Regions from separate parts of the Homo sapiens genome. Here region 1 is linked to region 2. Evidence: fine-mapped expression QTL. Tissue or cell type: whole blood. Region 2 holds a variant in brackets; the other region holds the start of a gene. All regions are shown on one strand. Distances are between the middles of the regions.

Evidence for each region. PIP is the estimated chance that this variant, and not a neighbour inherited with it, causes the effect.
Region 1: it holds the start of FAM167A, and the variant in region 2 is fine-mapped to the expression of FAM167A in whole blood (TOPMed, PIP 0.96).

What each region holds. Positions count from the first base shown.
Region 1 is chr8:11,462,193-11,470,192 of GRCh38, forward strand. FAM167A (family with sequence similarity 167 member A) reads right to left here and starts at 4,561. Exons shown (of 3, transcript NM_053279.3): 1 at 4,434-4,561. RefSeq lists a silencer at 4,269-4,478 and an enhancer at 5,724-6,493.
Region 2 is chr8:11,420,353-11,428,615 of GRCh38, forward strand. It overlaps FAM167A (family with sequence similarity 167 member A), which reads right to left. Exons shown (of 3, transcript NM_053279.3): 3 at 1,124-4,284. The coding sequence ends at 4,021. All of the region lies in intron 3 of FAM167A-AS1 (FAM167A antisense RNA 1), which reads left to right. Among named protein-coding and RNA genes, the nearest start is that of FAM167A, 42 kb to the right of the region's middle. RefSeq lists enhancers at 4,173-4,716, 4,717-5,259 and a silencer at 5,149-5,340. The variant C/G (reference allele first, on the strand shown) is at 5,046.

The sequences.
Region 1 (8,000 bases), 42 kb after region 2:
GGAAAGGAATCAGGAGCAGGAGAAAGGGATGGAGCAAGTTAGAACAGGGCAGAGCCGGGTGTCGGGGGACGTGGGTTGGTTGACAGCCAGCCTGCCACTTACTAGTTCTATGACCTTGATCAACAGATTCAACCCTCCTAGGCCTAGGTTCCACATCCATGAAACAGGATTGTAATGGATCGTACCTCACAGTCTTGGAAGGACCAAATGAGATCAAGTTTACGTGAATTTTTAGTTACACCTCTAATACGACTGTCACCTCCTGCTCTTGACTGTGCTTGGCTGTCACTCTCCTTGGTCCATCGAATTGGGAAATGGCTCCTGCACTGCGAAAGTTAACTGAAGCGTGCAGAACAGCATTTTACTGTGAGCTCAGGACTCTACTGCATCAGCAACCTCGCCAGACTGCACGCTCCCTGAGGGCACGGCCTTCACCTTCTGCTTCCTTGGTAGGGTGGTGCATTTGGATCCTAAACTCCTTTGCAGAGATGGTGGGCTGTTCTGTGTGGTTTCATTATGCCAGCTACAACCTAGATGTATTCAAATCAGCAACGCCCACCCCTACCCCACTCGCAGCCACTGCCTCGAAGCAGAAAGCATCTGCTCCAGAGGCAGCAGGGACAGGCACTTCAGCGTCTTTATCTCTGGTCAGCATTGGGCATTTGATGATTAGCAAAGTAAATATTAGAAATGCGTTCTCATTGGTAAAGACAGAGGTATTCAAGATGTGTGGGTTGGCTAAATGAATTCAGAGACACTCTTGACTCAGGAAAGAGCAGGTAAAAGAATCCATGAGAGCTCCAGGGAGGTGTGGTCAGGGCAGCAGAGAGCAGATTGCTGGGCTTCACCGAGCCCACAGGACAGGCTGTATGGACTCCGCTGGACTTGTTTCAGGTAAATATTTGTCCAAAAATGTGTACGTCTGGCAGAATTTGCTCTGAGGCTGCTTTCATTCAAACTTGATAATGAGGCTGGCTTCACCTTCCTCCAAGTTTTCAGTGGCTGCTATCAAACAAATAAACAAAATAGCAGCAGCCACACAACCAAATTTGGGAAGTGCCTTTGTGACTGGAGGGACTTAGGTCAGTTCACGCCTGGCATGGGACTTCCAGGGCGAAGTGCGTGGAGCTGATCACAAGACTAGGGAGGTAGTGTCACTTTCAACTTGATGGTGGACAGTGGGGGCCAGGTCCCTAAGGCAAAGACCCTCATCCAGAACCTTCCTGGGTGGCCACCACCCTAAGCATGAGCCTGCTGACCTAGGGGCTGCTGTGCCCAGCCAGCTCGCAGAGGCTCCGCTGGCTTCCTGGAATGAGGAAACACTGCCCAGCCTTCGAGAAGGCCTGGAACTGTAGCCAGTGCACAAGTCACTGCCTAGGCTCTTTCCATACCTGCCACTGGACCTGGAAAATGGGGTCTGACCTGGGCCTGTCCCTCTAGGGATGCCCAAGGGACAAGCCCTGCGAGGGAGCCCTTGGGCATCTACTGCCAGCTTCCACCTTTGGATCAGGATGCCCTGGAGGGAACTTCCGGCCACACTGAAGAAATGGGGGCTTGGTCCATGCCCCCAGTGGGAGAAGGTGAACCCTCATCCTCTTCAGGTTTCTGCAAAGGCCGCTGGGGAGGAGGATCACACTTATGGGCACCCGAGGGACCTTCTGGAAATTCCTCAGTGAAGAGAGCTTTGTGGTGGGGGAGCAAAGCCACCCCCCACTATAGATGACAACTTGGGGGGAGCTACTATGTGCTTGCTAAGGCCACGTGGCAGGGCCCTGGCATGGAGAGGAGCCTGACGCTAGACAGCTGCTGCTAGAGAAGAGAGGCCCCCTTGACGGCTGTGCCCACAGGGAGACTGGGCTACTGCTCAGCAAAGTCCTCTCGAGAGTGGCTGATGGATGAGATTTGATGCTGCCTGGCAGAGATGAGCAGGCAGGCAGTGTGCAGAAGGAAAGGGGGTGAGGTGGGAGCAGCCCCCCTTGAACTGCTCTGCTCACCTTCTTTCTCCATGCTTGTCCTTCCTCTCCAACACTTCTCCAGAGAGAAGTGGTAGGGGTCAGGGTGGGGAAGAGTTGGCCTTTAATGGACAGGGCAACGGTCCTAACCAGGGAAAAGCTGAGACCTGCGGCCTACCTGACTCATCCTGGCAACACGGCCCTCGGTGGCAGCTCAGACTCTACAGGTGATTGCAGAGCCAGTGAGGCTCACCTGCCGCCCCTCCTAAACTCTTTTCCCACCCTGTCCCATCCTTCCTGCTCCCCACCTCCCCCTGCCCACCATGTAGCCCATCCTCAGCCCCTCAAGGTCTGTTTCAGTCTGTGCTTTTCCTTCCTGTCTCCACATGGCAATCCAAGTCTCGGGGTGCATTTGCACAGTAACAGCCAGCCAGGCTAATCCTAAGGGATTTCCAGTTAGTGGCACGTGCGTGCTCTCCCACCCCTGGTCTGGAAACCAGGAGCAAAGTGCTCAGTTACTCATTTTCCGCCTTTGCAAGCAGCTCAAGTCCCTTGGGAAAGCACAGCTCCCAAAGGGTTCTGGGAATACCGGGGCTCCTGTAGGGCCAACGGGGCTTTCTGTGAGCAAGATTTGCCTAGAGAACACAGCAGCCAGGGTGTGAGAAGCCTAGCAAGTAGTTTCTTCCTCATTGGCCTGGGGCTCTGTGGCTCTCTCTCAGCAAATAGTTAGGCATGGCCTTAATTTATTTCCCTGCCAGAGTTCCTCCTGGAGGGGGGCCAAGCTAGTAGACAGGAAGGCGGGGACTGGCAATTTAGTAGAAATCCATGCATGTAATTGCGAGGACCAGAAGAACAGGAGCAAGTGCGCAGGGAGTCTGGGGGCTCTGGGCAGGCAAGGAGGAGAACAGGGTGTGGGGGAGCAACCCTTTCTTCTGCTTCAGGTGGGAAGAATTGAGGCCGGCCAGGCCCAACAACACAGCCTTGCAAGCTCCTAATAGAAGAAATGGCTTTCCTGGCTCCACAGGGTTCCTCAAGCAGGCAGGGGACCTTCTCAGGTCATAAGATGAGCCCCACGACACAGTTCTCATTTCATCTGGGCGTGAGTGGTTTCTGCCCCTCTCTGGGCCTTAGATGCCTCAGATTTCCCAAAGCAGCCTTCGTCTGAGAGCACTGTCCCGGGAGTCAGGCACGTGAGGCTGACTCTCTGCTCTCTCACCAGGTGTGGGAGCCACACCAGGTCACTCAATTTCTTAGAGTCCCATTGGCAAAACGGATAATAGAGTCTCCTTGAAGACTGATGGGGAGGATGGAGTGACCAAGGGATGCGAAGGGTTTCTAAGTAGTGCATGGTCCATAAATGCACTCAAGAAAGAAGAGCTGTCATCTTTATCCATTCCAAGCACAGCCCATGGCTGCTTTCCAAGCTCCTTAAAAACACGCTGCAGAAGTTCCTATCCTGCCAACGCCCTCAGGCAACAGGCGCCACAGCACCTCTGCTTTCCCAAGACTTTGTCCACGCTCTCCACGCTCCATCCCGAGCTTAGTGAGGGGCAGGACTGTGTCTACTGTGTCAGTGGGAAGCTGCTTTGGAGCATGTGCCCCTTGGTGAAAACCCTGTGGATAGGACGTGATCTCATCTTCTGGGATTCTCCAGCAATGACGGGGAGTTTGTGGAAACTTGACTTGGGAGAACCTGCTTGCAGGCATACGGCAGTGGCCAGCCCCCAACCTAGAGTCAACCCTCCTTCCAGATCTTCCCAGGAGGTCCCAGTCCTCAGAATTCCCTCCAAGCCCCGCCGGGAATAAAAACCAGGCAGTAACGGGTGTGCAGAAAACCTATACATCCAACCTAACTTGGCTGAAGAAGACACCCTCCCCCCCGCCGTCTGTGCTCCGGTGTCTCGGTGACTCAGGGTGCCCACCTTCACGGCTGACCTGCTCATTCCCGGGGGCCCCTGCGGCTGTGCCGTTCCCTCAGGTCACACTGGCTTGGGTCCTTAGAGCACCCTTGGGTCCAGGTGCCCTGGGCCACCTCCCATTAGTTAGGGACCGCATCCGTGGGGACAGAAACTTCCATCTCACTGAACCTATACACAGGAGCCAGGCTGGGCTTGGAGGTCACCAGCCGCCTGGGAGTGGACCCGGAGAGGCTGAGTGCGGCCCTCCCTCTCAGACGGCAGACCCCGAACCTCCACCCAGAATCCGAGCCCGGACACGGCCAGCAGGGAGCTAGGAGATGAAGTCCAGCCCTGGCTGCCCGGCTCCTCTGGGAGGGCAGCGAACCCGCGGGAGCGCATGAGCGGCCTCTCCCGGGGGGGCGGTAGGAGCGCGTCCCCTCCAGGGCGCTTTGGGATCGGGCTGCTCCGGGCCAGTGCTCGCGCTGGGGACCTGCGACGCCTCAGCCCCTGCCCAGACTGCGCCGCCCGCCGCGGCCACACCTCCCAGTCCCTGGGAAAGTCCCCGCCGCCGGCGCGAACCCACCTTCCGGGAGCCCAGGGGCCCTGCTGGGGACTCGCCGGTGTCCCCGCCGCCTCCTCCTGCGCGGGTCCGCGCTGCCCGGCCTCAGCTCAGGGCTCCCGCCTCGCCTCCCCGAGCTCCGGTGAATTCTCGGCGCTGCTCCTTTCGGAAAGGACTTTTTTTTTCCCCCTGCGTTGCGTCAGGGCGGTTGCCTGGCGACGGCCGAGCTCTCCGCCGCGAGCCTTTCACCGCGATCCCGGCCTCGCGTTCTCGCCCCGGGTCCGAGCGCGCCCCGGGTCCTAGCGCCCTGTCGGTTCACCGGCCCGGGCAGCCCCCGCGAGTGGAGAGGAACTACATGCCTTCGCCAAACCCCAGATGAAACCAAACCCAAACATCCATTTTCTCATTAAACCCGAAACCAAGGCAGTTTCCCCCAATTGTGGCAACGTGACTGCGCCACTGTCAGAAGTTTGTCCGCATGGAGGGCGCAGGGGGACCCCACGCCCAGGGCCTCACCCACCCCCAAACGGCAGGAGTTCATAGGACCCGCGGCCACGACTGCCCGCGAGCGCCTACCGTGGGCCACGCCCCCCAACGACCCAGCAGGGCAAGTGTAGGCATCTCTGGCTGCCAGATGAGGAAACTGAGGTGCAAAGACGCGAGCGTTTGCCCCACTAACCACAGGGTGTCTGTCCCGCCAGGGGCGCGGCATCGGCCACCTCTGGCTGTCGTTAGATTCTAAGACCCAGTCCCTGCTGCATCAGAGCCCAGAGCTGCAAACCCTAAGGCACAGGCAGGACAGCAGCCCGAGCTGCCCGGACCGCAGGTCTTCAGGACCAGTCCCAGCTTCTGACGAGGGGCCCAGGCCAGACACTGGAGGCCCCAAGGCTGGTTACTGGATGGGGGTCTCTTACCCCAGACCTCATCAAGCACCTTTCCTAGATGCCCGGGGCTGGAAGCGTCTTTCAAAGGGCTCCAGTCTGCCATTCTCACGATAGCCCTGGGCGTGCGCGCAGGCGCCGCCTACATGGCCAGACGCGAAGCTGAGTGGTGGGGCTGCAAAGTGACTGGCGCAGGCTCCAGGCAGGTGCGCGGCTGGTCGGGCCTTCTGTGGGGTCTTAGCCCCTGCAGGGGCCCGAGACACTCGTGCTGCCCTCTGGTGCCCGCGTCCTTCACTGCAACTCCGCATCCAGCCCTGACCTACTCCCTTCCTTTCTGACCTTCACTGGAAGGTCCTCTGAGGGACGTCGTCTAAGGAGACATCTTGCCAGTACAGACCTAGTCATGCTAATGAGGGAACGGTCCTAAGCTAGCGGGTGTATTAACAAGCATCTTTTGGAGAGTCACAGCCTTGATCCAGATCTTCTGATTCCAGCTCCTAAACATCACTCCTTCCTTCTTCCTGCCCGCTGCCACTGTCCCTACCCAAGCCACCAGCAGCTTGCCCTACCCAGTTCTGGGACCTGCCACCCGGGTCCAAGCGTGCACGCAGTCTCCATACTGATCTCCCTTTACCCTCTCTCAGCGCCTCCCAAGCCAGTTACTCCTCCACAAACAGGGGAAACTCTTAAGAATGGAAATCCAGTCTCAGCTGCTTCTGCTTAAAGGCCTTCAACGCCCCCAGTCCTCTGAGGATTAACAGCTAGCTTGGCTGCAGGGGCCTGGCTGGCCTCTGTCCGTCTCTAGGGCCTTGTCTTGCACAGACCCTGCTCCCCAGACAACAGACCCTCTTCCAGTCCCATTGTGCACCTGCTCCTCCCGACAGGCTGCTGCAGCTCTGCCTCCTAAGGGAACCCCAGGTTACAGGTGCTGGCAGCCCCCTGCCTTATGTCCTTCATGGACCAGTTATAATTCCAAGTTTACCTGTGAGGTTATTTGATTAGTATGTGTCTCCCTCTGAGGCAGTAGGCTCCGGAAGGGCATGAACCATGTTTGCAAGCAGGAGCCTCAATCTGGACTTGGGGATAAAGCATCCTTCTGGGTGCTGGCTGTTTCTGACCACAGCCCCGGTGCTGAGCCCTAGTTGGCTGCATTGCTCACTGGTGTGCCCATGGCCCTGGCACGTGGTGAATGCTCCAAGATCTTTTTGGATGGGCCATTCAGCCCCATCTGGAAATGCTTTGTCCCACCTCTACCTCCTGGCTCCCTGTTTGACCTATGGCTTCTATTTCTGGGAGTGCAGATGCTTTCTCATGGGGGAATTGTGGCATGCCTCAAATGGACAGGCAGCCTGTCCAAGGCAAGGGTGGTGTCTTGCCCTGTGGCTCCCATTCTGCCTGGCATTTGTCTGCGGGCAGGAGGGTAATCAGTGATGGGGACCAGGAGGAGAGTGGGCCAGAGGAAAGAGGAAGGGGAGGAGGAAGAGCAGTCTTGGTTGGAGTAGCCTCAACTCCAAAGTGAAATCATATGGAGTGGTCAAATAAATGAGTTAGCACAGAATGGTATGTAGCCATAGAAATAATATTCTCAAAAGCTATTTGATCATATAGAAAAATACTAACGATTTAACGCTAAGTAAATAAGACTGGGACACCAAATCCTGTGTACATTATGAAACTTCTCATTCCAATATCTAATTCATATGTATGCATGGAAAAAAGATTGGAAGAGTGTATGCAAATATTAGCTGTCGTTATCTCTGGGCTGCAGGATAATGGAGGATTTAAAATGTCTTCTGTAAGCCTGCATTCGTTTTCTACAATGAATCGTTTTGTAATGAGAAACATCAAGAAACACTACTCAAAAGGGAAGATGGCACTGTGTTGGTGTTTCTGATGGCACTTCCTTTTGTGTCAGGCACACTGAAACCCAGTGATGGTGGGAGGATCTGGGTGGGCCAGAGAAGGCAAGGCCACCTAGAGGTTCTCTCTTCCCTTTGATTCCTTACAGAGAAGTTTTCTTTCCGTTGGTGCATGATGCATGAGACATTGCCTCTTATAATCCTACAGGAAGCTGTGAAATAGATGAGTCAAGAAAAATGCCCAACCAGGCATGGTAGCTCACACCTGTAATCCCAGCAATTTGGGAGGCCGAGGCAGGGGGATTGCTTGAGCCCAGGAATTGGAGACCAGCCTGGGCAACATGGTGAGACCCCACTTCTACAAAAAAAAAATGAAGAAGAAGAAAGAAAACTCAGCTGGGCATGGTGGTACACACCTGAAGTCCCAGCTACTTGGGAGGCTGAGGTGGGACTGCTGGAACCCAGGAGTTGAAGGTTGCAGTCAGCCATGATTGCACCACCGCACTCCAGCCTGGGCAACAGAGCAAGACCCTGTCTCAAAAATAAATAAATAAATAAATAAATAAATAAATAAATAAATAAAAGATTTAAACTTAAAATATTCTTTCAGAATTTCTCCCAATTCGTTTATTCATCTGTTCAATAAATACGTATTAGTACCACTAAATACCAGACATTGTTCTAGGCTCTTGGGAAATGTTAGTGAACAAGTTAGATGAAGGACCTCGCCCTTGAGAACTGATAATCTAGCAGAGGAAAGCAGGCAGACGATGACCGACAAATACGCTAAGTAAATAAGCAATATTGTGAGTGATAGAAAAACAGAATTGTAGACTTGGATTGGAAGTAAT
Region 2 (8,263 bases):
TTGCCACTGCCACTGGAAGAGCTCTTCTCCAGGAAGCTTTGACCACTTGGGAAAAGCAGCCCCCTCCACACCTGGCGCCGTCTCACATTTTATCTTCTCTGTGGCACTTAGAATGGTTGGATTTGTTTGGAGGTCACATTCATTTCCCTGTGGGCTGCAAAAGTGCATGTGTGGTCCCACCGGCAGGGTGGAAAGGCCCTGGCTTCTTGAATGCCCTTTGAACCACATGGTCAGGGCAATGGCAGATTCCCCAGTAACCTGCTCCCTACCCACCTCACGCCCACTCTCCCCCAAGCAGCTTATACTGTGTGCTCTTTGTGGAAAGAGACATCACAGGCACTCCTCTTGGTGTAGACAGGGGATATCATCTCAAGGGATGGACAGAGATCTGCAATTGTTGTTCAGCGGTTCCTTCCACAAAATGGGATTAGTGACACCCACTTTGACCCTCTGACTTAGGTCTTTGCTGAGAACACAGAGATGGGATCAGTGAAAAACAGGGCCTTCCCTCACCTGCTTTGTCTTCCAAAGGTTTCTCAAAGTGTCTTTAGACCACCTGTGTCCATCACCTGGGGCGTCTGTGAAGCCCGGAGCGACACAGCCAGAATCCCTGGGGCTGGAACCCAGTACTTCTCCTGGGAATATGCATTTGTAACAGCAGCCCAGGTGACTTTCATGCATGCTCGATTTTGAGGTTTAAGAGGTGCTTTAAGTGGCTGAAAAAATTTCAGGCATAAGATCTCAGAGCATAATATGATCACCTTTGGAAAAGGCCACTGGAGGAGAGTGGGTTTACTTTGGCTCTGGCTTCTGTCAAACTCAGGAATCAAGCCTGCATTTTTTAATTCTACCTCAGCTTACCTGTGGAACTCCGGATAGTAACAACCACCAAGCAGCTTCCTCAAGGGGAAGATACAAGGAAGAACAGTGATTTGGGTGAATCTTTTTCTCCCTCCCCTGCCTCCATCTGGTTGCAAAAATCTTCCTTCCCTCCTTCCTTCCATCTGTTGTTCATCCATCCATCTGTCCATCCGTCCATCCATCCATCCATCCATCCATCCATCCATCCATCCTGTGTGTGCTATAACAGGGACAAGCTAAAAGGACAAGCATTTTTCTCTCCTTTTATTTTTATATGGATATCTTCTTTTGAAGTATTTTTATTTCACTTTTTCTAACAGCAATATAGAAACAAATAATCATAAAAAATAAAAGTATAAATCGTCCATTGATTATGTAATAGCACTTGGTATTGCTACAGGGTGTGGGTCTTGAACTCGGTCAGGCATCGTCAAGCCTGCCCAGGCCCTCCAGGCCTCTTTGATAGCTACTGAGCCCCTGAAGGCATCAAGACATGACCACGCATGGCAGTGTCGGTGGAGAGTTTGCGTTTTACACCCAGCGATGCTTGGGGATGGCAGAGAGATGGATGGATAATGAGTACAACTGCAAACAGCACTGTACACATGTGGTGAGCCAGGAGGCTGGGACGGAGGTTAGGCCAATGTTGCTGCTGACTCATAGACCCACAGAGAGCAGGGACTTCACAAAGCTGAATTAATGTGGTTAGTTGTGTTCACTGTGCAAAGTAAGGAAGCCAGTCAACACTGGACGATGTTTAGAAAACATCGCTGTCCCCCTCCACTTCTCATCTTGGGTCACCTCCTCATCCCATAATAAAGTTCTCTTAGGATAAACCGAGCAAAATAGCTCAGACATTTAACTTATCCCCAAACATGTGTCTTGATCTTAGTTTCCACCCAGAGAATGAAGAAAGCAAGCAAGCACTGGGTTACCCAAGCAACTAAATCACTCAGTTGCATCCAACTTAATTGGACTGACTACATTCAGCTAAATCTTTCCATTTTCGCTGAACCCAATGGTTTCGGTTACTGTAATGACTGATTTCCAAAAAGAAAGAAAAACCTAATTTGGCATTTTTTCAGAATATGGGATGGGCTTTCCTGCATGGGTTCAAGGATGTTTATGGCATGTTCTCTGTCGTGTGTGTGTGTGTGGGGGTGTGTGTGTGTGTGTGTGTGTGTGTGTGTGTAGGTCAGCCCGAGACCTCAAGGGCTTATCTGGAAAGAGGTTGGCAGGAAAGGAATGCGTCTTCAGGACTTGGCAGTGTTTGTGCAGAGCTCTGAGGAAGGACAGCAGTACATGGTCCTCAGGCCTGCAGACTTCATTGCACAGAGCATGGCAGACAGTAGATCTTGGCTGCGTTGTTCTGCCTACTTTGAAGGAGGCATAGAACTTCTGGCTCTTTGAAATTTTAAAAAAGAGACCAAGTTCTTTTCTGTCTACTAGAGATCATTCATTTGCATTGTCCTACTCTCAGCCCACAAAAGAAAAGCAACCTCTCCCCTATGTGGGTCACGATGTGTGGGTGGACACGGGCCCCACTGAGATTACACAGGAAGAAGTCACAGTAGACAGAGCAGCCAGATGCCGTGCGTAGACCATGGGACAGTGATTAGTGACACATGCCCTGTGGGGCCACTGTCAGTGCCTTGCTCCACCTTGACCCAAATGTTCTGAATTGCAATACTCTGGGAGATGTGGGTGGGGGCTGAGGTGGAGAGTAGAGGGGTTGGCAGTGTGCGGGTTTGGCAAAGCATCACGACCATCTTTGGGGTTCAAGTTCATTGACATGTGATCTACTAGGCATTATCAATAATGGTTTCACACATCAATATTCTATAGCCTAAACAGCTGTGCAACCTGAGGGAAGTCCTTCTCCTCCCCCAGGTTTCACTTTGCTCCTTTACTAATGAGAGGACTCGACTAGATGACACCAAAGGTCAGAAACACTCCTTATCTCAGGATTCTACGGGTCTGGCCGAGGGACCCCTGCCATGCCGTATGACCCCAGACTGACCTCCCTAACCTGCTGGGGTCTTAACTTGCTGATCCTCAAGCCTGTTGGGAGGGAGAAACTCTTAAAATCAAATCCTACGCACTGTAGTTGACCTACACAAGTGGCTTCCGCATTTGGACAAAAATCAGTTACTAACAAGTGAACAACACATCAGTAACAGTCTTATTAAAACTAGTTGTTTAGGTCAGGCACAAAATCTCAGAGGAGGCTCAGGATGGGCCTCTGGGCTCCCTAGATTGTCTTTCCAGAGAGGGCAGTAAGGTGACACCACCAGAATCCACCAGGAGGCCCCGGTCACGCCCCTGCAGGAGAATTCAGTTATGGAAAATGCTTTCAGGACCTGCCTGGTTCAGTCACCAGTGGTCTCCCAGGCTGTCACCCTGGGGTGTGGGTGGCAGTGAAGAGGCTCTTTGGAGATGCATGTGGCCAGGGGAGACAATGGGGACATCTGTGCTTGTTGCACCCAAGCTACGCTAGTGCCCCCATCACATGTCCCAGCACACGCCAGAATTTACAATTTACACAGCCTTATAGTGTCAGGCTCACCAGAGACACTGGCTGCCAGCCACTGGGGCTGCGTCCCCAAGTGCCCATTTGTCATGCCTTTCGATTTTCCCTTCCTAGTAGCTCCCTGTCAATGTTGCTGAGTCATGTACTTAGGGTGAATTTGAGACAATACTTAGAGGACAGCAACAGCACGTGAGACAGGCACATCTGACATGCCTAATTTCCCCCAAGGCCCTTGCGGGACAGCCTTCTGCAAAAATGACAGCTTTGTTGGGGGGCCTCCCTTTGGGAATCCCAGTTCATAGCACCAGTGATTCCAGGAAACAGGAACGTGACCGTGGAGGGATGGATTATGGTGGGAACCCAGGTCTCCTTTAACATCTTGGTTGGAGCGGCCCTTCTGCAGAGCTCTTTGGGTAGTAAGCAAGAGCCAGTCACAGAGACACTGGCATCCACACCCAGGGCCCCTGGGTGGGAGAGCACCACTGAATAGGTCCTGGGGCCCTTGAGTCGCCAGTCCCAGGGACCCCTGCCTCCGGGAGACCCACTGGAGTAACTTGGCCTCAGCTTCCTCTGACACCCCTCCAGCCCAAGCCCTCCGCTCCAGCCCCTCCGCCCAGTCTGAGGGCTCCTCAGCAGAGAGAGAACCTCCGAGAGTTGATGTTCATCTTGGTCACGCCAATAAGCTTGAGTGGTGTGGAGAGGCTGAAGGAGGAGGCAAGAGGGGAGTCACAGAAGAGGTCGGCCAGCTCATCCCGCTCCTCCAGCTCGTAGGTGGCATCGTTGAGCATCCTCCTGTGGAGGCGGCAGGTGTGTTCGATTTTCAGCTTGTTGATGTCGCCACGCAGGCGCATGAGCTGTCTGGCCAGTTGCTGGTCCTGCAGCCGCATCTCCGTCTGGAAGGGAGGGGGAGCAGGCAGGGTCAGCAGAGAGTGGCTCGAGTCCCTGACAGGCACAGACTGGTTAGCAGGGCCCTGACTAATGTCTTAGTTCATTAAGTGGTCCATCTAGAAATATTAGCACTTTCCCTGCTCAGGGAGGTGAAAAGACACAGAAAGCAAGGTGACAAATGAGGGTGCGGTCGCAAAACAATACTTTGTGCTAGGCTAGTTGCTGTATCTAAGTCCTTCTGAAAGACATGCATATTGGTCCTGGCTAGAAGATACTTCCAGTGCTTTCTCATTGTTTAGAGTTTCATTTAGATGGAGTAAGAGTATAAAGGAAAACATAGGGTAACAGCTATCAAATTCAGGAGGATGGTTGCCTCTAGGTGAGAAGGAGGGACTGTGATTGGGAAAGGTATATGGGGGCTTTGACTGTGATGGCCATGTTTTCTTTCTTACGCTGGGGAGTGTCATGTTGTTACATTACTCTTTAAACGTTTTAGAATGCCTGAAATATTTCTTAGTAAAGTTTCAAAACAGCCAAACAAAAATTGGTTCCTAGGTACTGGGTGTTTTATTATGAAACAGTTCTAAGGCCTTTGGGTCTATTAACATGCAACAGTTAACCGTCACTACAACCTGTGAAGTGATGTCACCATCATCACCCACAGCTTATAGAGGAGGACACAGAGGCACAGCCAGGGAATTAGCTGTGTCGGCTCACAAAGCTCATCCACAGCCGAGCTGGGATGAGGAAGCCGGACAGCTGGACT[C/G]CAGAACCAAAATGACTGACAATGAAGTTCTGCTGCTCAAGGACGAGCTGCAGTGTGGTGTATGGAGCTAGCAGAGTGCTTAGTGACCTTGTAGAAGGTTCCTAATATTTTTAGTGGCTTGATGTTTCCTATTGATGTGTAAACACAAGGTAAAATCCTAAGCCCCCCAACTGACTGAACAAGCCCGCTCTTCATCAAGAGGACCCCAGAGAAGCCTGAAAACTGAATTCCCAGCCGTGATGGGAATGGAGTTCAGACATGCTTTGTTATACCCCCCCTTGCTGTTGGAGTTTAGGCACAGCAGATCGGCATTAACATTGAAATAGAGATATAAGACTGACAAAACAGACTCTTTGTGGCAGTAAGGTAGCAAATTCCTGCCTCTGGTATAGCGTCACATAACAGGTAGCAAACCCTGAAGAAAATAAAAATATTTTACCCTGAAGTATATTTCTTTGACATATTTTGAAATGGCCCTGCAAAACCATCTCTTGTGGGAGATACTTACATCTGTAGAGCATTTCCATTAATGCAATCAAGCCTTCCCTTTCTAGGCCTTTCCAAGATCTAGGAGAGATTAAATGAGAGTCTGGCAAATTTAAGGTCTGAAAAGAGATATTTACCATCTATTTTCTCTAAAGGCTTCTACCTGGAGGCTTCATCTACATAACAAGAACCTTGGCCTCCACAACTGTCCTTTGTCTTAAGCATTTCTTTCTACTGACTTCAAGTCTTTAGGCAAAACTTAACTCTTTCAATCAACTGGCAATAAAAATATCTTTGAATCTACCTAAGACCTGTAAGCACCCCCACCCTCCAAGCCCCTTCAAGATATCCCACCTGTTTAGGCTGAACCAAGGTATACCTTCTGTGTATTGAGTTATGTCTTTGCTTGTAACTCCTGTCTCTCTGAAATGTGTAAAACCAAACAGTAACTGGACCACCTAGGGCGAGCTTTCTCAGGACCTCATGAGACTGTTCCCTGGCCCATGGTCACTTACACTGGCTCAGAATAAACCTCTTTAAGTATTTTACAGAGTTTGTTTTCTTCTGTTAACAAAGAGATGTGATAATTATTTCTCACCTGGCTTCACACTCCCAGTTTCCCAAACCCACTGTAAACCAAAAGTGTCTGAGACAGGTGTCAACAATTTAGAAAGTTTATTTTGCCGACGTTAAGGATGCACACCTGGGAGGCAGGTCTATGCCTTTCCTCAAAGATGATTTTGAGGGCCTTAATATTTAAAGGGGAAGGAGTGGATACTGGGGGAAGAGGAAGAAATTTTTTAAAGGTGTAGGTAGATAAGAGACAAACGATTGCATTCTTTTGGGTCTTTGATCAGCCTTTGGTTGATCAGTCTTTGATCAACCGAATACACAATTTACATGTTTGTTTAGGGTAGAGGAAAAGTCACTTGTGTCTTAGTCTGGCTCACTGAATCTGCATTTTTATAGAAGATAACATAAACACAAGGCACGTGAAGCAATCAGGTATGCATTCGTCTCAGGCGAGCAGAGGGATGACTTTGAGTTTTGTCCTTTGTCCCGCACCTGAGAAGATCAGATGTCAATTTACATTGCCAGGGTGAAATTCAACAGAACTGTTTTAGGGTACAGGTCTGGGGGCCCAACACGGAAGTTCTTTGTGGGCCAATTGTGAGGGAGGTATGTAGGTTTTGTCTTTGCAGCTATCTTATCTAGAAATAAAATGGGAGGCAGCTTTGCCTGATGCAGTTCCCAGCTTGACTTTTCCCTTTGGCTTAGTGATTGTGGAGTCCTGAGATGTATTTTCTGCTCATGTTTAACCTTGATGGGCCTCACAGCCACTCCTGAGGTACCAGCAGGACAGTCTGGCTCCATATTTTACCAGCCAGCATGCTAGCTGGAGCTCAGAGGGCTGGTTTCTCAGTTGTGACATGGTACATAGGGACTGGCTTAGTGCAGAGCGCCTTCTGTAAGCAGCACTTTGTCACTGGGACAGGTTGCCAGCTGCTCCTACTTGACTCGAGATCTGAATCCTTCTCACTATTTCCTCTGTCTCCACTTGTAAGTGGTTATTTAGTATTTCTGCGACATGCTCGGCTGTGCCATTTACCTGGTGCCTGGAGCCAAACTGATTAGAAAAATGAGCCCTGAGATGCCCTGTAGTTATGCAAATGAAGGCAGTGTTCTCACTTTCTCCCTGTTAGGTTTATAATAGAGCACATTGCAGGGTAGAAAAATTAAGTGACCTTGCCAGCGAGCATCTCAATGTTCTTTTTTTCCTCTCTCGTTTTTTATGCACTTGTACAGATCTCTTTTCTCCTGATTTCATATATAAGAAAAATCAAGATAGAAAGTCTTGCTTGGGAGTCAGCAAGGTATCTAATGGCAAAATTGGGATTAAAGTTCATAGCCACATTCATTAGTTTACTTTTCAATCCTTGGGCCTCAAGCATTGAAGAAACTCAAATTTATTGCTAATTAAATTCTATTGACCTAGAATAGCACCAAATTAATGATGATAGGGTGGCTGGTCATTTGTTTTGTAATGGTGTCCCTCACTGAGCCTGGAACGGAGCTAGGTGCTACCTAAACCCTTCTGAGGAGATGGGGGTCAAACCTGCCTGAAAGATATTGTCTGCGAACACCCATTGCCTTAGTACAGTCATCTGTCACTTCTCTTTGGAGTGTTCTGTAATTTGACAATAGATCTTTTTGAAAAACTAGGAACCCTATGGTTTAAGATTTGAGCTTTGGCCCCAGGAATTGCATCTTTGGTGTGAAAAGATCCTTTGAAGTCGGGGAATTTGGGGTGTGGCCAGGTGTCTAAGACTATCTGTGAGACGCAGGCTGTGGCGGACACATCTCTGTGGGGTAGCAGGAAGGAAGGGGCTGTTTTTCTGTGGCTGACAGATCTGGTCAAAGGTCAGAGAACAATTTACTCTTTAAGACCCATCAGAGGCAGCTAGAAAGAGGGCTGACAGTAAGGCCTGTGTCAGTTTCCATGGACTGGACAAAGGCCGCCTGGATGGCGTTGCCTCGCACGCCCATGCTGTGCACATGCATTCAATTCTGCGTAAGGGTGAAAAGAGAAAGAAAGCTGCAGCTTCAACAGGGATGGTGATTCCGGCCGGTCTCCCTGCTTGCGCTCTGAGAGAACATGAGGAGGGGGCTGGGAATTGCAACTTCCTCAGTGGGCTTTGGTTCTGAGGGCATCTCACAGCGTGAGCATCTCG